Linked DNA regions of Homo sapiens: region 1 is linked to region 2. The links come from fine-mapping of genetic effects on gene expression. A gene starts in region 2. The other region holds a variant in brackets. All regions are shown on one strand. Distances are between the middles of the regions.

Evidence for each region.
Region 1: its variant is fine-mapped to the expression of FAM43A in fibroblasts (GENCORD, PIP 0.95).

Annotation. Positions count from the first base shown.
Region 1 is chr3:195,097,296-195,109,298 of GRCh38, forward strand. All of the region lies in intron 3 of XXYLT1 (xyloside xylosyltransferase 1), which reads right to left. LOC124909476 (a long non-coding RNA gene) reads right to left here and starts at 9,248. Exons shown (of 2, transcript XR_007096226.1): 1 at 6,335-9,248; 2 at 5,557-6,219. RefSeq lists an enhancer at 5,343-6,542 and a silencer at 9,136-9,305. The variant A/G (reference allele first, on the strand shown) is at 5,444.
Region 2 is chr3:194,680,171-194,692,173 of GRCh38, forward strand. FAM43A (family with sequence similarity 43 member A) reads left to right here and starts at 5,713. Exons shown (of 1, transcript NM_153690.5): 1 at 5,713-8,867. The coding sequence starts at 6,657. The coding sequence ends at 7,928. LOC124909474 reads right to left here and starts at 6,739. Exons shown (of 3, transcript XM_047449428.1): 1 at 5,690-6,739; 2 at 5,168-5,248. The coding sequence starts at 6,083. RefSeq lists enhancers at 2,708-2,757, 5,443-5,802, 6,554-7,059, 7,060-7,563, 9,410-9,529 and silencers at 6,543-6,732, 7,563-7,862.

The DNA of each region.
Region 1 (12,003 bases), 420 kb after region 2:
CAGTCACCTTTTAAACAATTTATATCAATGATTTCATCCTCACTAAACTTTGTGACGCGGGTTACAGCAATGGCAAATGCGTATCAACACGTATCTAGCACCACGTGTGGGTTACAACAGCAGCAAATGCGTATCAACACGTAGCTAGCACCACGTGCCACCACATGCAAGCACTGTTGTGTTTATATCTGTGACCTCATTCAGCTTTCATAAACTTATGAGGTTGTTATTATCATGATCCCCACTTTATAGACAAGGAAACTGAGGCTTACAAGGGTTAAGGAATTGAGTCAAAGCCCCCCAGCTAGTAAGTGGTGAGGTCTGGATTTAAACCCAGGCAGCCTGGCCTGGAGCCCCCACTGATAAGACTGTCCTCGGCTGCCTCTCAGTGCATGGCGAGCACCCTGTGAACAGTCGCCAAGATAAAACCCAGCCCTGAGCACCTCCGCTGGGACCACACAACTGCTTCTGATTCTCCGGGGGAGTGTGAGTGGAGAAAAGACCCTCACACAAATGCCCCCACCCCCCCACCACGCACACACAAAGAAGTCAGGCTGGGCAGGAAAGACGCTTCAAACCAAATGTCTGGACAAAGAAAAGATGAGACTGGTGGAGGGGAACCGAGAAAGGCTCATGGAAGGTACTGTGGTGGTGAATAAGGAAGGACCCACAGAGTCCCACAGTCCCAGCAGTGGGGCGGGTCGGGAGGGGAACAGTGTGCTTCTGGGCCTAGGGGCAGCAGAGAGTGGCGGAGGAGACAAATGTGCATGATTCCACACACAGGAAATACCAAGAACAGGCACGCTCACAGGCAGGTTAGAGCTGGGGAGAGGCAGGAAATGGGAAGTTATTATTGAATGGGTACAGGGTTTCTGTTTGGGGTGATGCACATATACGAGAAACGGTGGTGATGGTTGTACAACATTGTGAATAGAATTAATGCCAGTGACTGTACACTTCAAAACGGTTAAAATGGAGCCAGGTGCAGTGGCTCACGCCTGTAATCCCAGCACTTTGGGAGGCTGAGGCGGGTGGATCACGAGGTCAGAAGATCGAGACCATCCTGGCTAACATGTTGAAACCCTGTCTCTACTAAAAATACAAAAAATTAGCCGGGCGTGGTGGTGCGCGCCTGTAGTCCCAGCTACTTGGGAGGCTGAGGCAGGAGAATGGCGTGAACCCGGGAGGCGGAGCTTGCAGTGAGCGGAGATCGTGCCACTGCACTCCAGCCTGGGAGACAGAGAGAGAGACTGTCTCAACAACAACAACAAAAGGTTAAAATGGCGAATTCTGTGTTATGTATATATTTGACCATAATCTCTCTTCACAGTGGCAGAGGAGGTGAAGCCACGGGCCTTGATGCTGTCAAGGTCTCGGGAGCCCTCCTCGCTGCGCTGGCCCCTGCTGCAGAGCCCGTCATCAGAAGAAAGTGATTTTTTTCCTATGGGTTCTGACAGTTAAGGCCCTGGTGCCTCTTGATGGCAATCAGAGGGACTGGAAAACTCACTCTCTGCCTCATTCCAACACTACCTACGGGTGGGACCCTCCCTGGGCCTCCTGGCCTGCAGCCTGGGGTCTCCAAGCTGCCTCAGGGCTTTCCGTCCCATGTTCTGCCCGAGCCCTGAGCGGCCCTGTTGACTTGGGACATGTGCCCCTTGGCTTGGCAGGGCTGCTGCTTCTCCCTTTCCATCTCATTGCTTCAAGCACAGACCATTCCACAATCACAATGTATTTACTTTCCAAAGCTGTGGATACCAAAGGAAAAACTGTGGTAGCAGAGTACGGTGTAATTAACGTGGAATGTACCAGGGGAACCGAGGACATGGCAGACAGACACCGCGTTCTCAAACAACCGCTTGCTGTTGAAGAGGGTCTATTTTCTCCTCTCCCTCTCCCTTCCCAAGAGATTAAAATAATAAACTCTAAGAAATAAATAAACGTGCTCAGCTTCACACATACGAGGTTGACCCTGGCGCAGGTGCGTGGACTCACGTGTGGGGTAGCAGCTGGACAGCCATGATCTGTGTCCATCACCACCCAGGCATCATGACCACAGAGAGACATATTTAGCACACACATTACAGTGCCTCCCAAACCAGCACCACCATCTGGGGCCTGTGCTGTCAGCCTGGACGCAGTCAAGTCAGCTGAAAGTAAAATCCATTCTCCATAATAAAGGTGTTCACAAGCCCCTTTCCCTGTGCAAGTTAGCAAAGACAGAACCATCTGACGAAGAATTAAATGCAGTAACTGGGCTGGGCGCGGTGGCTCATGCCTATAATTCCAGCACTTTGGGAGGCCGAGGCGGGTGGATTACGAGGTCAGAAGATCAAGACCATCCTGGTTAACACGTTGAAACCCCGTCTCTACTAAAAATACAAAAAAATTAGCCGGGCGTGGTGGTGGGCACCTGCAGTCCCAGCTACTGGGGAGGCTGAGGCTGCAGAATGGCGTGAACCTGGGAGGCGGAGCTTGCAGTGAGCTGAGATCGCGCCACTGCACTCCAGCCTGGGCGACACAGCGAGACTCTGTCTCAAAAAAAAAAAAAAAAAAAAATGCAGTAACTATATTTGAATCTTGTTCAGTGTAAAAGTTCTTAAGAAAAAGTTGTTTCTAAAGTGTAGCTTCAGTCAATAATTGGGATCTGTTTCTCACTGGGCACAAAATGGAGGGAGAAGAGAAAAATTCTCCCTGTCTTACTTAAAAAAGAAGACAGACTAAATAAAGTACAATAAATATCTATAGAATAAAGTAGTGGAAATTTGGAACTTCCAAATTTGCAAATCTGGAACTTCCAGTCCCTGCATAAAGCTGTCTGAGATCCTGCACCTGAAACCAATCTCCCCGCCACCACCGTTCCCCCTGCTTCATGCGACAGGCAAGGAGTGGCCCAGCCATGTCTGTCCCTCCTTTATTCATCCTCTGTGGATGTCTGACGGCCAGATGGACAGGGCTGGTTTCCTACTGGTCTCCGAATCTCCTGCCTCCACACCTAGCATGGGGTCCTATCTGGGAAAGTGTGGCCTATATGGCATGGAAGCCAGGTACAGCAGGAGTTTTACCCACCAGAGCACCGGACAGTGTGCTTTGGCCAGGACAAGGAGGGACACATTTAGCACACACATCACAGCGCCTCCCCCAGAAGGCAGGCATCTGCAGAGTCTTCTGCCCTGGCATCAGGCTAATGTCATGCTCCTCAGTGCCTATAGAATTAACGTCACCTTAGCCCAACACATAAGGCTCCCGGTGATGTGGCCTCTACCCCTGCCAGCCTCCTCCTCCTCTCTCCCTGGCACTCTCCCCGGCACTCTCCCCTGTACTCCACCCAGACCCAAGTTCCTGGGCCTACACACGCTACCCTCACTGAGGCTGTGGTGCCCTTCTCCCTCCTCGTCCACCAGAAAACTTCTTGTCACGAAAACCCAGCTCACAGGCCATGTCCTTTGTTCAGCTCCCTCCTCGCCCCCAAGCCTTGGACTATGTCTATGGTTGTGGGGTTTATACTGATCCTACATCCCTTTCTGTCCTATTAAACTGTGAGTTCTTTGGGGACAGAGACTGTGTCTTTTTATATCGGATATCCCTGCTGCCTAACCCTGTGCCTGGCACAAAGCAGGGACTCAGTCCAAATTTACTGAAGCGAACTAGTCTAGACAGGTATACTTTCACTGTCCAACTGCAAGGATATAACTAGCCTTTTCCAAGACAGCTATAGGTTCCACAGAGCGGCCCACAGCCAAGGCCTCTGCCAGTCTCTGTGAAGGGCTTCTGGCGCAATCCCAGCAGCTCCCCAGCCTCACTGCTGTAATCCACAAAGCACCTCCCAGCACGTGACAGTGAGGCTATGACAAGTACATAATATGTCACCTTCAGAGCCGCCAGGCCTCTTGCCAGTGCTATGCCGTCCTTACGGCGCTTGGGCAGGTACCCCCAGCTTGAATGTTCGACTTAATTGATTGGGAGCAATTAAGGAGAACATGTACTAGTTAATTAAACACTGTACCCCCACTGCCACCTTCATCAAAATCTCTTAAATCACATTAGGAAAAAACAGAATCTCTCTGGCTGGTTAGTATCTTTACTCTCAGGGCATCATGATGATGAAATGGGTAAACACATCCTCTTTTGCAAAACCATTTCCTTCCCATTTATTACTTTTTCTAGAAATGCACACAACTGCTATCACTTTCATAAATATTTTAAAACATTAGTAAGTCCCAGGGACATTCCTTTTGTATACTACATATTTCAGTGAGATTTGGATAAAATATGGCAGTTATACATGTAGCTCTAATTAACATATTTCCTGAATGAAAATGATAACATCTGGCCCCTTTTAAAGATGAAATATATGAAATTGGGATATAGCAAAAAATACATCTGAGCCGGGTGCTGTGGTGTGTTCCTGTTATCCTAGCTACCTGGGAGGCTGAGGCAAAAGGACTGCTGGAGCCCAGGGCTTTATGTCCAGCCTGGGAAATGTAGCGAGACCCTATCTCTATTGAAAAAAAAAGGGGAGAGGGGAAGGGAGGGGAGGGGAGGAGAGGGGAGGGAAGAAAGAAAAAGAAAGTAAGGAAACAGAAAAAAAGGAAGAAACAAAGAGGAACGGAGGAAAGGAGGAAAGGAGAAATGTAAGGAGGAAGGGAAGGGAAAGGGAGGGGAGGGGAGGGGACGGGGGAGGGAGGGATGCGGGGAGGGAGGACAGAAAGAAAGTAAAGAAACAGAAAAAAAGGAAGAGAGAAAGAGGAAGGGAGGAGAGGAGGAATGGAAGGAGGAAGGGAAGGGAAAGGGAGGGGAGGGGAGGGGGAAAAAGAGAATTGTCTGGTATATCTGAGTCTATGTTTTCCAACAGAATAGAATGAATGTCTTCTGAATTCTATGTAAGATATACAACATGATATTTTGAAATACACAGGTAGTGAAATGGTTACAATAGTCAAGCAAATTAACATATCCATCAATTCACATTGTTACTCATCTTTGTGTGTGTGGCAAGAGCACCTAAAACAAACTCTTTTCGCAAAATTCATGAATACGATATTATGGATGATAGCCCTCATGTCACACATGAACCCTCTAGACCCGTTCATCCCACACGTCTGCTACGCTGTATCCCCTGACTGGTATCTCCCCATTTCCTCCCTCACCCTCGCCGTGGCCACGGTAACCATCATTTTCTTCTCTACCGCTGTGTATTCAGCTTTTCCTCTTTTTAAAAAGATTCTACATATAAGTGAGATCATGCGACATATTTTTTCTCTGTGTCTGGCTTATTTCACTTAGCAATAATGTCCTCCAAGTTTCATCCACGCTGTGGCAAATGGTATGACTCCTTCTTTTTAAAGGCCGAGTAATATTCCGTTTTGTGTGTGTGTGTGTGTGTCTTGTATGTTACAATTTCTTTCTCTATTCATCTATCAACAGACATTTAGGTTCTTTCCGT[A/G]TCTTGGCTACTGTGAATAACGTTGCCGTGAGCACGGGAGAGCAGTTATCTTTACGAGGTAGTGATTTCATTTCCTTTGGGTCAATGCCCAGAAGAAGGACTGCTGAGTCATATAGTAGTTCTAGTTTTATTTCTTTAGGAATTTCCATATTGTTTTCCATCATGGCTGTACCAACCTACATTCCTACCAACGGTGCAGCGTGCTGGGGCTCCCTCTTCTCCACACCCTCGCCAACAGTGGCTATCTCTTGTGTTTTTGACAATGGCTATTCTATCAGGTGTGAAGTGAGAATGACTGTTTTCTGATTTTGCCAGATTTTTATATGTCTAAGGAATCAACCCCGTACTGCCAGCCTGCACTGAACGGGGAGAAGTGGCGGCTCACGCTAGTAACAGTCAGTGCTGTGGGGGGCAGATAAAAGGGAGCCTAGGAACGCTGGACGGAAATGCTGATTTGCTCCAGATAACAGACTGGAATTCCAGGCCATGAGGCTGGGCCTAGTTTAGTTAATGCTGGGCCACTGGTGGTTCTGTGACAGAAAAACAGGAGTGCAGGAATGCACCCCCACACCAGCGACCTGCGTCCATCACCCCACGCCAGCGACCTGCGTCCATCACCCCACGCCAGCGGCCTGCGTCCATCACCCCACGCCAGCGGCCTGCGTCCATCACCCCACGCCAGCGGCCTGCGTCCATCACCCCACACCAGCGGCCTGCGTCCATCTCTTCTGCATTTGTTAGAGGCTGCATGGGCCTAAATCACACACACTCAGAACCTAGAAAGAATCAGTGTAGGTAAAACAAGAGAGAAATTAATTTTAAATAGGAACATGTTCTTTGTCTTTTGAAGCCTTTTAAAGGCCCTTACATTCACTGTCGCTGTGCCTTTACCTAGACTCAGATAAATGACAGAAGAGGTGCTGTTCTGTGAGACCTTTAGAATCCATCAAGGGGAAGTCACTGGGCAAGAGGAATGAAATTCAGGCCCTGAGAAACTAGGGAAAAAAAAATTAGAGAAACAATGCAATCTTGTCAGGTGACCAATTCCAAGTGTGTCCTTTGACCTCATGGAATAAAAGACAGTCCCTGGCATAACTAGCTGAAAATACTAGCTGGGGTCATATGCTTCTGATTACTGAGAAAGGCCAGCACAGGCTGAGAGTCCCTATGCTCCTGCCTAACCCTGTGGCCTCTCCAACGAGGGGAGAAAGGTTTGACGCACTAGAAGTTCATCACTTTAAGTCTGTTGTTTGGAATTCTGAATACATTTTCCTATAACAACTATTTCCAACTGGTGTTTGGGCGCCTTTTTAGACATTACATACAGATGGACCCACAGTTTAGAATGGGAGCAATGGGGAAAGGAAAATGGGAGGTCGGGCCCATGAAATCTACTGATGAGTAGAAGCCCTTTGGGAGCACACACCCACTGTGACGGTGATGACGGTGATGAGGGCTCCGTGTGTGTGTGTGTGTGTGTGTGTGTGTGTGTGTGTGTGTGTGTGTGTATTTTATGAGAGGGCAGATGCCATGAGAGGAAAACGAGGCTCTAGGAACAGAAACAGAAGTATGAAGAAGTGGTTCAAAGACAAGAAGTAGCAAGCAGAGGAGATGGTTCTGAGTCCCAATCATTCCTCAGCTTAAGTTCTTCTTTCTACAATACTTCACTTCCCAGGCAGCAGTGCCCAGGTGAGCAGTTCCCTTGCGGGGAGGGGGTGGGGCAGCAGTGGACTCATGCTGCCTGCTGGGAAAGGGTATGTGAGATTCAGCTGCTCACACGACCATGTGTTCACTGAGCAGGGGATCACAACCTCAAGCTCCCAGAGAGCAAGGCAGTGGGGACGAGGCGGGGACCCGGGAGATCCAGACAGCGTGGCACGACCACCTGAGAGAGGCTGCTGCTGTTCAGCTGAGGCCAGGGGTTCTGGAGAAAAGGCAGGCCTAGTATCATCCTGACTTCTGAGTTTTAAAGGAAAGCTACGGAATACCTTGATTTTAAATGTTGGCAACTAATACAAAGTAACAACAACAACAAAATGCTACAGGCAAAAACAAAAACAAACAAAAAAAACCCCACACCAAAAACCCTCTTCTGTCTGGTCTGTGGAATATCAGTTTGCAGTCCCTTTCCCAGTGTCTACAGTTAGAATAAACCATTTGGTTCTTTGATTCGCAAGTCTAGCTACAAGCCAGAATCACTTTGGGTACATGGTCAAAACGCAGCTTTGGAGACCAACAGTATTGGGATGCCTGGGACAAGGCCTGAGAGCCTGTCTTTTGAGGTGCCCTGGGGATAGTGGTGTGGCTGCGCCGCATTTGGAAACCACTGGCTGGTTTGTATTTCATCCATATAACCAACTGCTCACTAGTGTTTCACACCTCCAGTTCATAATGGTCAAATACTATCACAAGAATGATAAAACCACAAAATATGCTGACCCCATGGATAGGAAAGAGGTGAATGTCAAGGGGACCTGGGACACAACCAAGTGTGTCAAAGTGTGTCTTATCTAAATGGTTTATGAAAAATTAAAACTCTATAATATATAAGCATATGTTTTAACAGACGAATTTTCCCTCTACTAAATCTTTGAGTAAAACTGACTCTTCAGGAAGATGCAGTAAGCTTTGATCCTGTGACTGGAGAGTACAGCTGTCCCCAGGATATTCACCAAAGTTTAAGAGAAACAGACATATCTACACACCGTATCATCATCTCGTCTGACTTACGCCCAAAGGCAAAGGGCCACGTGAAGTCCACAGCAGGACTCAAGTGCAAAGTCAACAGACTTTTATTTAAACTTCTGTTCAAAGGTATGTGAGTGTTGAAAGTGTGTCAGATGGTGGAGAAAATGACATAACAGGAAATTGTCGTTTAACAACAGAGTCCATCCCTGAATGCTGCAGCCAAGTCTGCGCCTCCGCGTCCACTCACGGGGCCACCGAGCAGTGATTTGGAGACCTGTTTCAACTATCAGCGGGGGCCAAGGGATCCCTGAGCCAGACCTACACCATGGCAGAGCCCCCCAGGTCATTTTCCCACCGTCGGTGAAACTGTGAGGAAACCATGGTATTATTCCTGGCCTCCCTGCGCTTCCCTCTCTCCTTTCCTGGTGACGTTTCCAGCTGTCACCAGCATTCCATGGCATACTTCTTATTCCCCACCTTCCCTTACTCTCATATCATCACTTCTTAGTAAGACTAAAGCCTTCCCCTTTCCTGTATTATTTACTTCTGATTAATGTCGGCAGCATTTCACCGGCGCGTAGCATTTAACTATTGACTTGAACACCATAGGTATTGCTTCTTATGGAAAAAGAATACTTTAAATTAAACGTGGTCTCTTTATCCAAAAGTGCCCAATTTGTTATGATTAATAAAGTTACCAATCAATAAAGTTACTTCATATGATCACTCTGAAAAAAACAATAAAACCTCTTTGTGGAAGCTCAATACACTGCCATTCTGTCATTCACTAGTGTTCTCGACGGAGAGGCGCTCTTGCTGTGCTGTGTCGTTTTTGATGGAGAGATGCTCTTGCTGTGTTTTTGACGGAGAGATGCTCTTGTTGTGTTTTTGATGGAGAGATGCTCTTGTTGTGTTTTTGATGGAGAGATGCTCTTGCTCCGCACTCCCACCTAACCCTCACCCCCAACCCCCTGAAAGGTTCTGGCCCCAGCACGGCCCCGCACACACCCTCTCTCACTGGACTTGCCCCTTCCCTTCTCCCGGGCCTCACGGCGGTGTCTACGCCGGGCTCGCTGGAACCTTCCAGGGCTCGGTGATTCGGGGCTGCGGTGGGAGGGCCCTGAGTTCTTAGACCCGCGTGCAGATCCGGCCGCGACACAGGCGAGACCCCTGCCGGCGAGGCGCGGAACTGCAGGCACGCCGCGGCAGGGAGGGCCGCAGAGCGGGAGGGGCCTGGGGCGCCCCCAGCAAAGAAGCTGGGGTGGGGGGCTGGCCACCCATCAGGTCATCAGGAGCCAAGTCCTCTTCCACACTTCTTTCACCACTGTCTTCAGCTGCCACCTCTGTCTGCCTCAGGACCATCAAGCTGTCTGGCTTCCGTCCTAAGACCCTGAGACAGAATGGAACCCTGGGCACTTACCCTCCTAGGCCAAGGCCAAATTCTCCAAAACACCCCCTAGAGGTGGGGGTGACGGGGGGAGGAGAGTAGACACTTGGAGCCCTGGACATCGGGCCAAGCATCCCACAGACGACAGATAAACGGCTCCCGGATGGTAATACAATCAGAGGCTCCACAGAATCTTTTTCTGTTGGCAATGGGATTAGAAAATAAAAATAAATCCCAAACACACACAGGCACCTGCCCTTTGCCTGGTGGAATGGAGAGCTCTCGTTTTGTTTTGCCCAGAACGACTTTCATTTACAGCTTCACATTTTCAGCAAGACGAAAAGCTGAGTCCAGACGCCCTTCAAAAAGAAGAGAGGTGGCCGGGTGCGGTGGCTCACGCCTGGAATCCCAGCACTTTTGGAGGCCGAGGCGGGCGGATCACCTGAGGTCGGGAGTTCGAGACCAGCCTGACCAAGATGGCGAAACCTCGCCTCTACTAAAAATACAAAAATTAGCCGGGCATGGTGGCGGGCACCTGTAATCCCAGCTACTCAGGAGGCTGAGGGAGGAGAATCGCTTGAACCCAGGAGGTGGAGCTTGCAGTAAGCCAAGATCATGCCACTGCACTTCAGCCTGGGCAACAAGAGCAAAACTCCGTCTCAAAAAAAAAAAAAAAAGGAAGAAAGGAGGAGGAAGAAGAAGAAGGAGGAGGAAGGAGGAGGAGGGGGAGGAGGAGGGGGAAGAGGGGGAGAGGAGGAGGGGGAGGAGGAGGGGGAGGAGGAGGGGGAGGAGGAAGGGGAGGAGGAGGGGGAGGAGGAGGGGGAGGAGGAGGAGGAGGAGGAGGGGGAGGAGGAAGGGGAGGAGAGCCACAAGTGCCAGGGGGGCAAACCTAGCAAGAACAGTCAGTATTCTCCGCACTGTGACCCCGTCCTCCCTGCGCTTCTGGCGGGGATCCAGCCCCTCAGTGTTCGGAATCCTCATGGCCTCATGAGGCCAACTTGGTAGAGACACCACCTCCTTTCTTAAATGAGGAAAATGGAGACTCCCACGTGGAGGCATCACCCGCCCAGGCCTCCGCACAGTGGGGCCCTTCTTCCAGTCAGCTGCTGGCCAGTGCTGAGGAGGGTCCCTACACACAACACAACCCATTTTATCTGGCCAACACAACTCTGATGCCATTCGGCTCTCATGCAGTTGAACCGTGTCAGATGAGAAGTGGCTGGAAACCTCCCTCTAGCTGTATGCATCTCCCACCACTCCCCATAGGGGGGTCTGGCCTTTCATCTTACAGAGAGACCTAGGTGACCTGCAGAGGCAACCCTGGGTCACCTGAGCTGCAAGTCCCAGTTCTGGGCCTGGCCTGCAATGTTCATATATTCTTCCATCCATTCTTGTTTTTCTTTACTAAACATAACTGCATGTTACAACCAGCTAGGCATAAACATTAATTAGAAACGCAAACCACCATACTGATAAAAACATGCAGAAATCCTATGAACCAGCGGCGTAACTGGGAACTTTCTCAAGAGCCTTTGACTCTTATCAAACTGCTAACTCTTGTTTTATTTGAGACTTAGTAGCATCTTCCTAGTTTTTTAGAAAATTGATTTCCTGTCTGTAAAATACACATTTGGAGTAAAAAATCTGGAAAACTTTACAAATCGTAAAGAAAAAACAACACACATATACAGTCACGCATCGCTTAACAACAGAGTTTGCTCTGAGAAATGCATTGTTAGGTGATTTCGTCTTTGTGTGAACACACAGAGTGACTTCCACAAACCTAGATGGTATTGCCCACCACACACCTGGGCTGTATGGTACAGTCTGCTGCTCCTAGGCTACAAACCTGCATGGCATGTTACTATACTGAATACTGTAGATGCCTGTAACACAATGGTATCTGTCTATCTAAACATATCCAAACATAGAAAAGGTACAGTAATAATATGGTATTATAATCGGACGGGACCACCATCATATATTGACCAAAATGTTACGCAGCATGTGACTATAACTCAATTTCACTCTCCCCCTCCATGAAGCTAGAAAGTAAATCCAAGGATGTCCTTACAACACCCTACTGGTAACGTCACGTCCCACACAGTGGCTAGAAATAATAATTAAGGCAGCTATTATCTTGTGAGGTAAGCACTACTTCAGAGCTTTACCTGTATTTTCTTTAGTTCTCACGAAAACCCCAAAGGTATTATTATTTCCAATATATTGATAAAGCAGTGAATTCTCAGGAAAGTGAACTCGAAAGGGGCAGAGCCAGGACTGTTAATCACCCAGTCCCACTACCCCCAAAATTCATGCTCAGCATTCCTCCAGATACTCTCTCTTCGTTGCTTGCAGATCTCCACTCTTGAACAGGAGCATCATTTTATGAAGGAGGGCACAGGCAAGGTACTTCCACAGCAGAGGCCGACAGCCCAGCAGCGCCTTCACTATAGCTGAACACCTTGAGGCACACTCTCGAGAA
Region 2 (12,003 bases):
AAGCCAGGGGAGGTTGACTAGATTATCTCGAAGGGCCTTCCAGACAACGCTCTTCCAGTTCTGACAGTCTGTGCTCATGACAGTCCCATGACTTTGAAAATAAACACATGGTTAATGTTCGTTCTAGAAACACTTGCCATACATTAATTTGGTGGCTGGCATTGTGCTGGAAGTTGGGGATACAAAGAGTGAATAAAATACAGTCACCAGCCATAAGGAGCCCATAGTCTACTGGGGGAGACAGAGAGTTAAAGACGATACTATAGGCCAGGCACGGTGGCTCGCGCCTGTAATCCCAGCATGTTGGGAGGCCGAGGTGGGCAGATCACAAGGTCAGGAGTTCGAGACCAGCCTGGCCTTGGTGAAACCTCGTCTCTACTTAAAAAATACAAAAATTAGCCAGACGCGCTTTTGCGCACCTGTAATCCCAGCTACTCAGGAGGCTGAGGCAGGAGAATCACTTGAACCTAGGAGGCAGAGGTTGCAGCCGGCCGAGATTGTGCCGTTGCACTCCAGCCTGGGCAACAGAGACTCCATCTCAAAAAAAAAAAAAAATTAGCCGGGCATGGTGGTGGGTGCCTGTAATCCCAGCTACTCAAGGGGCTGAGGCAGGAGAATCACTTGAACCTGGCAGGCAGAGGTTGCAGTGAGCCAAGATCACGCACTCCAGCCTGGGCAACACAGCAAGACTCAAAAAAAGACAATATTATAACAGGGCAAGTGCAGAGGTAAGGATGCACACAAGGGCATGTGGAGAGGCGATGAGTAGGCCTAGGCGGTTTACCTGGAGAAAATGGTATCCAAGATGGCTCTGTAAGAATGAGTAAGCCTTGGCCGGGACAAATGGCAGGAGGAGGTCATATCAGTTAGATAGAGCCACATAAGGCATGGCAGGAAGGGAAAAACCACTCTCATGAGCATGGGGAGAAGCATAGGCTATTCTCTGTGGCTGGTTCATAAATTAGGAGTCCAGGAGAAAAGAATGAGGTTGGAGACATAGGCAGGTGCCAGACCTGAACATTCTCATGTGTTATACTGAGGAGTGGGAGTGTACCGTGTGGCTGATGGGAAGCCATTTTGAAGGTTAAAAGGGGAAGAGAGAAAAGGTCAGAGGTGTGGTTTGGTAAGTATTGAAGGTGGCTTTCAGAGGGGCAGGTTGAAGGGAGGAGAGACTTCGGAGCCTGGAGGAGGGAGGTGGGCTTGGGTGTGGACGTGCTTTTTGTAGGTTGGCAGGGGCTGGAGGTTGCTCTAACTGCCTCGTTTTTGTGGGGGAAGCACCCGGTCAGTTCTGCTGAGCTCTGGGGGAGCCAGTGGCTTTGGGAAACTAGTGAGGACTTAGCGTATGTGTTGAGGAGAGTGGGAGAGGGAAGAGAGTCAGGATAAGGGAAAAGATGGCTGGATGGGAGGTGTACTGCTGCTGGAACAAACTGCCACGAACGTAGTGGCCTAAATCAACACAAATTCACAGCGCTGCAGGTTAGAACCCAACACGGGCCTCACTGGGCTAAAACCAAGGTGTCTGATAGCCACCTTAAAGAAGCAAAAAGAAATAGGTAAGTTTTTGTTGTTGTTGTTGTTTTTTGAGACAGACTCTCGCTCTGTCGCCCAGGCAGGAGCGCAGTGGCACAATCTCGGCTCACTGCAACTTCTGCCTCCCAGGTTCAAGTGATTCTCCTGCCTCAGCCTCCCGAATAGCTGGTATTATAGGCATGCACCACTATGCCTAGCTAATGTTTGTATTTTTAGTAGAGACGGGGTTTCACCATGTTGACCAGGCTAGAGAAATAGGTAAAATTAATCTGAATAATTTATTTAAATCAACATAGCCAAAATACTATCATTCAATATATAATGAATATAACATTATGAAGATTTTTTGCATTCTTTTTGTTTTACTAAGTCCTGAAAATCCAGTGTGTAGTTCATACTCGTAGTGCGTCTAAATTTGGGCCAGCTATGGTTCAAGTGGCAGCAGCAGCCTGTGGCTGGTGACTGCGTACTGGGCCGCACAGGCTGCAATGCTCTCCCCCATCTCTTTGCAGGTTCATCTCATTCCTGTCTCTGCCCAGAGCCACCTTCCCTGGCCATGCTGTCTAAACCAGCCACCTCTCACTCCTAGCACTGCCTCCTTTTCTCCAGAGACTTTTCACTATCTGCTATTTCATTAGTTTTTTGTTTACTGTCTGCCCTCCTGCCTCCACCAGAGGCTATAAATCCCATGCAGGCAAAGACCTCTCTATCTGTCCTCTTTAGTGCTATATCCCCAGCAACTATGTGACATTCATGGGAGACTCTCCACAAGTATTTACTAGATGACATTGAAGATTCCAGATTCGTCATGTGTCATCTCTGAAGTCAATGTCCACTGAGTAGGATGTTGGAGGAGGGGCGAGAGGAAGGAGCATTATGTAAGACGTAAGGTGGGAGGAAGCTGGTCCAAATCCTCTGTGAGATGAAAGGCTTACTCCTGGATGTCAAGTTTAGGGCTGGGACTCCTGATGGCAGCATTTCCTTCCAACTGCGACCCGGTTGTGTGTAGTTTCAACCACTAGCTTATCTGGTTTGACGAGAAACCATCCACCGAGCAGCATTTCTGCCTGCTACCAGTAGATGGGGGCAGTGTCATTAAAAAAGTACACTGCAGTTTCTAACCTGTTTCCCAGCTCCACTTTGCTGACAGTCTGTTCTGGAGTTGCCCTGTCTCAGATCTGTGATGTGGACTCCCACATGGTGCTGCCAGCTCTCCCAGCTGAAGAAACGCAGCCTTAATTGTGATGTGTGCTTCAGGTGGGGTGGTCAGCTTCTCCATAAGGTGAGGCGGGCCCTAGAGGCTGGCACAGGTCCAGGCCACAAGGGGACCGCGGGTTCTCCTCCAGGGCATGACTCACACCAGGGTGTTCACACTGGCCTAGAACCTTTCTGTTCTCCCAAGGTTGGAAACAAGCTTATTAGGAAGGCGGTCAAGGCGTGACATAGCCTCGTCAACAGGAGCAGCTCTGTGGGCCTGTGCCGCTGGGACTGGCACTCCGGCTGCTGCTGAACAGCCCGGCCCACCAGTAGACTCCTCCCTGCCTCTGTGGGCCACTGGGGTCCATGCCACTGCATGAAGTGCAAAGTGGTGCCTCTCGCTGAGGCTGAGACCAGCCTTAGCTCCTGCTACTACTCCCTCTTCCTCTTCCCCAAACCCTCTTGAGCCTTGGAACTTTGAGCGATTTGGAAATGATCACTGCTTAAACATGATGTCTGCTTTTGTGGAGTTCAAGATTATGGACCTACTAAAGGTCACTGAACACAGCCTCATTTGATATGTTTTTACCAGAGTTTTTGTTCTTTAGAGCGTGTGCTATCTCCTTCATTGCCACTACAAGATAGCCTAGAAATTTAAGGAATTAATGTTGCCTTAAATGGCTTATTATAGTACTAACTACCTCATTCCAACAGCATGTCTGGTATCCCTCCATTAACCCATCAGTGCAGCTGAGGAGTAAGGCATTATAGCTCTGGTTGAAGGACCCTGTGGGGCCAGTTAGCCATGAAGAGGCCATTCCTTCCCTTGGAGTGTAAGAGAGCCAAAAAACACAATCAGGAAGGTTTATTCTTTGATTGTTACAAGCTCCATCTTAATTACTACATGTGTATGCATTTTCTTTCTTTCTTTCTTTCTTTTTTTTTGAGACGGTCTCACTGTGTCATCCAGGCTGGAGTGCAGTGGCGCGATCTCGGCTTACTGCAACCTCCGCCTCCCGGGTTCAAGGGATTCTCCTGCCTCAACTTCCCAAGTAGCTGGAATTACAGGCGTGCACCACCATGCCCAGCTAATTTTTGTATTTTTAGTAGAGATAGAGTTTTGCCATGTTGGCCAGGCTGGTCTTGAACTCCTGACCTCAAGTGATCCACCCGCCTCAGCCTCCCAAAATGCTGGGATTACAGGCGTGAGCCACCGCGCCTGGCCTTATGCATGCATTTTCATGCTTCTGTAATTTTGCTACCCTCTATACCCATAAAGCCCTTCAGTCTTTTCCTATTTGGATAAATTCTGTTTATCTTTCAAAGGTCACCACCTCCATGAAGCCTTTTCTGATTTTCCTAGTCACAATGAATGCTTTCTTCCTCCAGCTTCTCATAGTGCTTTGAGTCTTTCTCATAGCATTTAGCCCACTCTGTCTTCTTGTCCACATGCATATCTTGCTCATTAATTCTAGTTACTGAGTGCCTATTTGTACCATATTGGGGATACAGGGTACTTGCAGAGAACCCACAGTCCAGTGGAAACCCAGAGTTGGGTAGAGTTTACAACCTTCATTGGACTAGGAGGCAGGAATCCCGTCTGCTCCTAGCTCAGGGCCGGGCACCAAAAGGTAGTCAGAAAAGTAACTTAAATGGAAACTCAGCAAAGTAACTTAAATGGAAACTCAGCATCAACGACTCTGAGAAAATTGAGTTAGATTTCAAAGGAAGGTTAAAAGTTGGCAAAGGTAGAGGGTGGGCAGGGGTCAGTTTTATTTTGTTGGAATATCCCAAGGGAATTTCCAGGTATGGTTGCAGTGACTCTGGCATGAAGACCTGGCGTGGAAGCCAGAGACATCAAAGATCCCCAGGGGACTGGGATGGTGGGAAGGGATCACTGTCCTCCTCCAGGACCAGGCTGGGAGTTTGATGCAGGATCATTCGGACATTGATCCCACTCCAGCCATACGTCTTTTTGCTTTGACTGACCATACCATAGAGGCAAGCAGGCTGTTTCAAGGGCCCAGAAATGAGTTACTGGCTAAGGGTCAAGCCGGTCAGAAGACAACTACACTGTCCAGTTGGCACATGATAAAAGCAATACTGATGCAATTATCACTCCCATTGGAGGGTGGCCTGGCATTATTTGTCACTTAAATAAAAAACGTCATTTGAATTTTTACTAGGAATTCTCATCCAAAATATGTCAATGATAGAATGAAACCGCATGACCGGCTTGCCAAAGTAAACTAAGTCCTAACGACACACGAGCATTAGAAATTGTGTGTATCTCAGAAAACTGCTCTACCCTGAGGCCTGACAGCAGGAGGGGGTCTTGCCGGGGTTCGGACGGGGAAAAGCCTTATTCATTGACGGTATTCTACAGTAGTCACCCCAATCATGTTACCACTCACCTCACTTTACACTGTCTGCTGCTTACCTGTGAATACGAGCTCAAGATAGTGAGAGATAAGCCTTGGTGTTTTCTGTGCCTCTCTCTTTTCTTTAATGGAATACAATTCTGAAAATAATATTAAACAGCACCCAGTCATTCTCAGAAAGCCGTCACACAAGGAAGAAACCACTATTTTCCCAAACTTTTTGTACAGGAAATTATAATCTGTAATCTCATCTTCTGCCACCTCCCTCAGAAGTTTCGATCTAGACATACATGTATTCAGTGAGTGGCAATTCAGCCTGGGGGGTGGAGTGTCAGGATTCAAATCTTTTTGCTGCGGGGTAACCCCAGGTCCCAGTGATTTCCATAGACAAAAGAGATGCTGGTAAATTTGGGATGTAATTGGAGGATTGGACCGGTCTCCCCGCTCCCTCGACCAATGGCTGTCACGCGGTCCCTTTAAGAAACCAGGAATCCGCCCGGAGTCGGAGCCCAAAACAGATCCTCTTCTCTGCTCCTCCCCTGTCCCCGCGCGGCGAATGGTTCGCGCCGGCCTATATTTACCCGAGATCTTCCTCCCGGACGGCAAGGATGTGAGGCAGGCGAGCCGGACGCCGCTCGCAGCACCGGAGAGGGCGCACTGCAAAGGCGGGCAGCAGACCGTGGAGAGCCCGGGAGCGGAGCTGGACACCGCCTCGGAGGGAAGAAATGAGGTAGCGGCGGTTCCCGGACCCGGCCATGCCCGTCCCCTGTTCTCGGAGCCCAGCGCCGTCTCGGCCAGGCCAGCCCGGACACTGAGCGGGCCGAGCGCGAGTCCCCGGCGTCCGGCGGAGCGAAGATGCAGTGAGTCCCCGCGGGACTGCTGCGCGGGGCCCGCCGCGGCCAGCCGGACCCAGCATCCGACCGCACTTTGGGCGAGCTGCTGACTTGAGACCAGCCCAAACGGGGGGCTTTCCATCTCCAGCACCCCTCGGAGGTGGGGAGCACCGGCCCCTAGGCACACTCGCTGTAGAGTTTCCGCGGGTTTTGGCCCCAGTCCTGAGGGTTGTGTGTGTTAGGGGACCCACCTCACGTTCGCCGAGGAGTTCCTGCATATTCTTGCACCATCCCGGGTGCTGTTGCTGGGGCTCTCTTTATTTGCACGCGCGCTTCTAGCTTTTTTCCTGACATTTTCCACTCTACGCTCGTTCTTTCTCCCTTGCATTTTGTTGCTTGCCTGAGACTCTTTGCTCTCGCCCTTGCCCAGGCTGGGGTAATTCTGTGTGCGCGCGTGTCTCCCCCGCACCAACCTTTTTTGCACACTCGAAGCTGAATATTTTCTTTTTTAGAGAATTTACCCGCACCTCCTGCGGGGTTCCTAAGCACTCTCTCTGCTCCCCTCCCCCCAACTCCCTACCACAGGGCCGCTCCCAGTAGTTTTATTCTTCGATCTTGCCCGGGCCGAGCCTGGCAGGGGCCGGTGGCTCAGCGGGCCTCGCACCCGGCGCTCCGCCGCCGCCGCCGCCCAGCTGCGCCGGGGCGCCCTCCGGAGATGCTGCCGTGGAAGAAGCACAAGTTCGAGCTGCTGGCCGAGGCGCCGCCGCGGCAGGCGTCCAAGCCCAAGGGCTACGCTGTGAGCCTGCACTACTCGGCGCTCAGCTCGCTGGCGCGGGCGTGCCCCGAAGGCGCGCTTAGCCGGGTGGGCAGCATGTTCCGCTCCAAGCGCAAGAAGCTGCACATCACTAGCGAGGACCCAACTTACACCGTGCTCTACCTGGGCAATGCCACCACCATCCAGGCGCGCGGCGACGGCTGCACCGACCTTGCTGTGGGCAAGATCTGGAGCAAGAGCGAGGCGGGCCGTCAGGGCACCAAGATGAAGCTGACGGTGAGTGCGCAGGGTATCCGCATGGTGCACGCCGAGGAGCGCGCGCTGCGCCGCCCGGGCCACCTCTACCTGCTGCACCGCGTCACCTACTGCGTGGCCGACGCGCGGCTGCCCAAGGTCTTCGCCTGGGTGTACCGGCACGAGCTGAAGCACAAGGCCGTGATGCTGCGCTGCCACGCCGTGCTGGTGTCCAAGCCCGAAAAGGCGCAGGCCATGGCCCTGCTGCTCTACCAGACGTCGGCCAACGCGCTGGCGGAATTTAAACGCCTCAAGCGGCGGGACGACGCGCGTCACCAGCAGCAGGAGCTGGTGGGCGCACACACCATCCCGCTAGTGCCGCTGCGCAAGCTGCTCCTACACGGACCCTGCTGCTATAAACCGCCGGTGGAGCGCAGCCGCAGCGCGCCCAAGCTTGGCTCCATCACCGAGGACCTGCTCGGCGAACAGCTGGAGCAGGAGCTGCAGGAGGAAGAGGAAGAGGAGCAACCCGAGGGCTGCCCGGAGGAGGAGGAGAACCGTGCGGCAGAGGGAGATCCAGCAGAGGAGGAGGCCGAGGCGCAGCGTGCGCTAGTGGTCGCCATGCACTTTGAGTGCGGGGACTTGTTGGATACTCTGGAGAATGGCCGTGGGGAGGCGCTAGGAGGCGGCGGGGGCTCCCTGGGCCCGGGGGCCGGGCCGCCGCCTCTGCTGCTGGGCAGCGCCTCCGACATGAAGGCTGAGCTGTCGCAACTTATTAGCGACCTGGGCGAGCTCAGCTTCGGCAACGACGTGCGCACCCTGCAGGCCGACTTGCGGGTGACGCGCCTGCTGTCAGGCGACAGCACGGGCAGCGAGAGCTCCATCGAGGGCGGGGGCCCTGACGCCACCTCCGCCACCGCCGGGGACTCGTCCCGCCAGGCCGACGGCGCCAGTGCAGACGAGCCCCACTCGGGCTGAGCTCCTCCGCGCGTCGCCGGCGCTCCACCGTGGCTACCCATCCGTGGTCCCGACAACCTCCCTGTCCCTTGCCCGCCCCCAGGAAGGGGGAAATGGGGCATTTGGGGCCCAGACCTACACTTGGAGCCCAGGTCCAGCGTTCCCCCGACCGCTTTCCCCTACCTCCCGGCCCCCGCTCCCGCCCCAGCACTTTTGGCTCTGTTGCGCGTGGGGATGCGGGGAGATTTGAGAGGGGAAAACCCCGCCAGGAGGGAGAGAGAGGCACCCCTCTGGGATGCGGGTGAGGGAAGGTTGGCTGAAGTTCCTAGTCTCAGGCCGTAGGTGCCTGGCCAGTTTCCTGTTTGTGGGGCAGCTGGGGCCTGAGGAGGAGGGGTTCACTTCCTCCTCCCACCCCCTGGGAGCGGCCCTGCGCTGTCACTGACATCTCATTAAAAAAAAAAAAAAATTTGCTCTCAAGGTGTTTGAGGCTTTAATGCAACCCTTTAGCCCTTGGTTCTTTTTGGTGCAAGAATTCTGGCTGTTTACCTCAGACTCAGACCCCTGAAATGTTGCCAAATTCTTCAAATAACTGTTTGGGGGGTGGGGGGAGATGAAAGAGAGTCGCGTTTTGTTTACAGTTAAAGACATCCAATATCTTAAAAAGGAGTTTTCCTTTAGAAACACACACACCCTTCCTCTTGCTCAAAAGATCTCACTCCATGATACTGTGTAAAATATTTTTGCACTGTTGTGAAGTATTTTTGACTTTTTTCTGTACATAACTGTGTTCTCAGAGCTGAATGTTTATATCTTTTGCTGTGCAAAAGAAACATGTAAAATGTTGTTCAGTTGTATATACAGAAATGTGTATAAAACATTTTGTTATTTTTTAAAAGTAGCACTGTTCTGGTTCTGTTTGCACGCCAGTGGGGAGAGAATAAAGAGGAAAATTTAACAGAACAGGTGAGCGTCTGGAACTGCTGCGTTGGGGTGGGAGAGGCTGTGTCTGACCCTGGGATGGTGTCATAAGACAGTCTTTGGCCTTTCCTGTGCTTGGAGAGAATTAGGGAAGGAAGGTCCACTTTATGCGCCATCTGGGGCCTTCCTGGACCTCCACAACTCTGGGTGCTGTGTCTGGGACCAGCCTTTTCTTGTATTATCCTGTATTTTTCAGTAATTAAGTTGTGTGATCTTTTTCTGGTCTTTTGGAGAGGCCACGGTGAGTTCCATATCGCACTCCCAGACCTGTGAGGTTATTTATGGAGGAGTGACTTCCAGATCTGCTGAGATTTTACTACCTCCTTCTGTGGGCCATGCTAATAATCAAGCGTAAGGAGACTACCTTATCTTTTCCTTTACAAACAGCTCAGGGAGCTTTAAAGATGAACTAGAAACCCAAAGAGGAGTTCTCTGAGGAGTGGGGCCATCTCTGTTTTTCCTGGGAGGAAAACCAAGGAGAGAAAAGTTGACAAGTTCCGATCCTGGTGTGAGTGAGTCACGGTGCAGGTGGGTGGGTGGCTGGGCAGGCTGCAGAGCCCATTTCCTTCCCTTCTACAACCCAGTGTGACCCAGTTGGGGGATGGCGCGAAGGTCGAGGGGGAGAGGAGCTGTTAGAGCGCGGTATGGGTGTGCATGTTTCAGCGCTTTCATGCTTTCTGTGTGTTTGTTTCTGTTGTAAACTCCAAACAGATGTCTCTAGTTTGGCTACACCCGATCAGCTGGAAGTTGTAATAAGATGCTGCCAAAACTGTGCCTTCTGCAAATTATATTTTCCTTTTGCCCCTTGAGGCCTCTCTTCCTGTGTTGCAGAAATGGATCTCACTCCTGGCCTTCCCTGGTGTCCTGAGGCCACTTTGCTTTGTTTTCATCATAAATATGTTCTGAGCAGCTAGACCCAGAAATCCTAAGGAGTCTGGAATTCACTGGAACCATAGAGGAAAGAGGGGTGAAAGATTTTCTTCCTAATTAACAGGAATGGTTCAGGCATAGAACTATCTTTAAAAAAGAAAAGCAAAGGGGGCGAGTGGAAAATATGTGTGTGTGTGTGTGTGTGTGTGTGTGTGTGTATATATATATATATTTTTTTTTTTTTTTTGAGACGGAGTTTCACTCTTGTCACCCAGGCTGGAGTGCAATGGTGCAATCTCAGCTCACCGCAACCTCCACCTCCCGGGTTCAAGCGATTCTCCTGCCTCAGCCTCCCAAGTAGCTGGGATTACAGGCATGCGCCACCACGCCGGGCTAATTTTGTATTTTTAGTAGAGATGGGGTTTCTCCATGTTGGTCAGGCTGGTTTCAAACTCCCGACCTCAGGTGATCTGCCCACCTTAGCCTACCAAAGTGCTGGCATTACAGGCGTGAGCCACTGTACCCAGCTGAGTGGAAAACATTTAAAAAAAATTCAGTCTTAAGGGCCTTAGGACGTCCAGGCCTTTGAATCTATTATATTTTGGCTTGGTTGTGCGTCCCGATCCCTCTCCCTGAATACCTCAGATACACATCATTGAATGACATTAAAAACCCCAGCTAGAGAGAGGTCAGGAAAGTCCAGTCTCAGCCCAGCCACCCATCCCAGCCCTTCCACACCAGTGTGCTCACCTGATAAGCAGACGGCTGTGTGGGCCATCACTAGCCTGCGTGACTAGATTTCACATTTGAAATTATTCCCATGCATAGCCAAGTTCCTCTGCTGTTTGAAACTGATGAAGAGATGAGACAGAGTGAAGATAATATGGCTAATACTTGGGAGACAGGGCAGGGTCTGTGTGTCTTCATTCTTATCTAGTTTAAGTGTCCTGTGAGAATGCCAATGTTGGCTTTCATCTGTGACTGACAGGCATGTGGTGGTTGGTCCAAAAGTTCAGGCAAATAGTGTTGAAACCAACACCATCAATAAATATAAAGCAGCCATCTCTTTAAAGTCTGATATTTCCTCTCATGTGATTTATAAATAGGAAGGGGGGCTTGAAGGTTGAGGAGGAGGAAGAAGAAAATAAGCAGGCTGGAAAGAGCCAGCTCCCTTCCTCCTCCGTCTGTGCCCTCCCCATCTCTCCTTCCTCCCCTCTGCTTTTTGGCATCGATCCCCACTGCACCTCAGAGCTCTGACTGATGTAATTCTAGAAGAGATGTGAAGGTGACACGTGATTCACCTCTTCTGACTTCTCAGTCTTCCAGGGATGATATCACTAGAGTAAGAAGAGATGTTTTGAATGAAAATAAAAGAAAGACCCTAAAACTACTTTGCTCCTGGAGCTCAGAGGGAAAAGAATGGAGCGACAAAAGCAAAGCTAAGTCATTAGATAAAATACACCTTCCAGAAAACACCTGAAGTCTGGTTTACTCATCAAATTTAGCTTTTCTTTCCTGCAAAGTGAGGCTCATGTTTCTCCATGACTTAACCTGATGGTACTTTAAATGCACTGAGACACTTTCCACGTTCTTTCCCAGCCTAGGTAATCCTCCGTGTTCAACAATGCAGCATCGACTGCATGAAAAACAGGGTGACTCCCGGCGGCACGCGGTCCTCCAGGGGTGGCAGCGTGAGTCTGGGAGGAGGCATTCATCGACTCCTCACAGCACAAACATCCCATGTTCACTTCTACCATTTGTCGCATATGTAAGCAGGAAGGTGGGAGGAATAAAATGGCATAAAATAAACAATAGTATTTCATACCCTCCCAACTATGACAGCTTCAGAGAACCCCCTCCACACACACGTGTGTGGACACACATGGTTTCCCTAAAGAAACACCTCTCACTGCCCCACAGTCAGCAGAACAGATTTTAACCAAATTAGAAAGGCTCTGTTATACTAAGAAAGCACAATTCCCTCCCAGGGGACAGAGCTGTTTTTGAGGGTTCTGCTTGTGAGTAGAGAGAGAACTGGTTGGAAGAATCTACCCCTGGCACCATACTGGAGATTTAAAAATCTCATTGTAGTTGCCAAGGATCACGAGAAACATAGAAATTCTATTAGGAGCAAGTTGCCGTCTTTTTAAACAGGATTTAGTAATTTAATAAGCAGAACTCTTTCCTCTGTGTGGTATGCATCAGTAGTCCCAGCATCTGCTGCTAAGTGATGCATGACAGAGCTAGA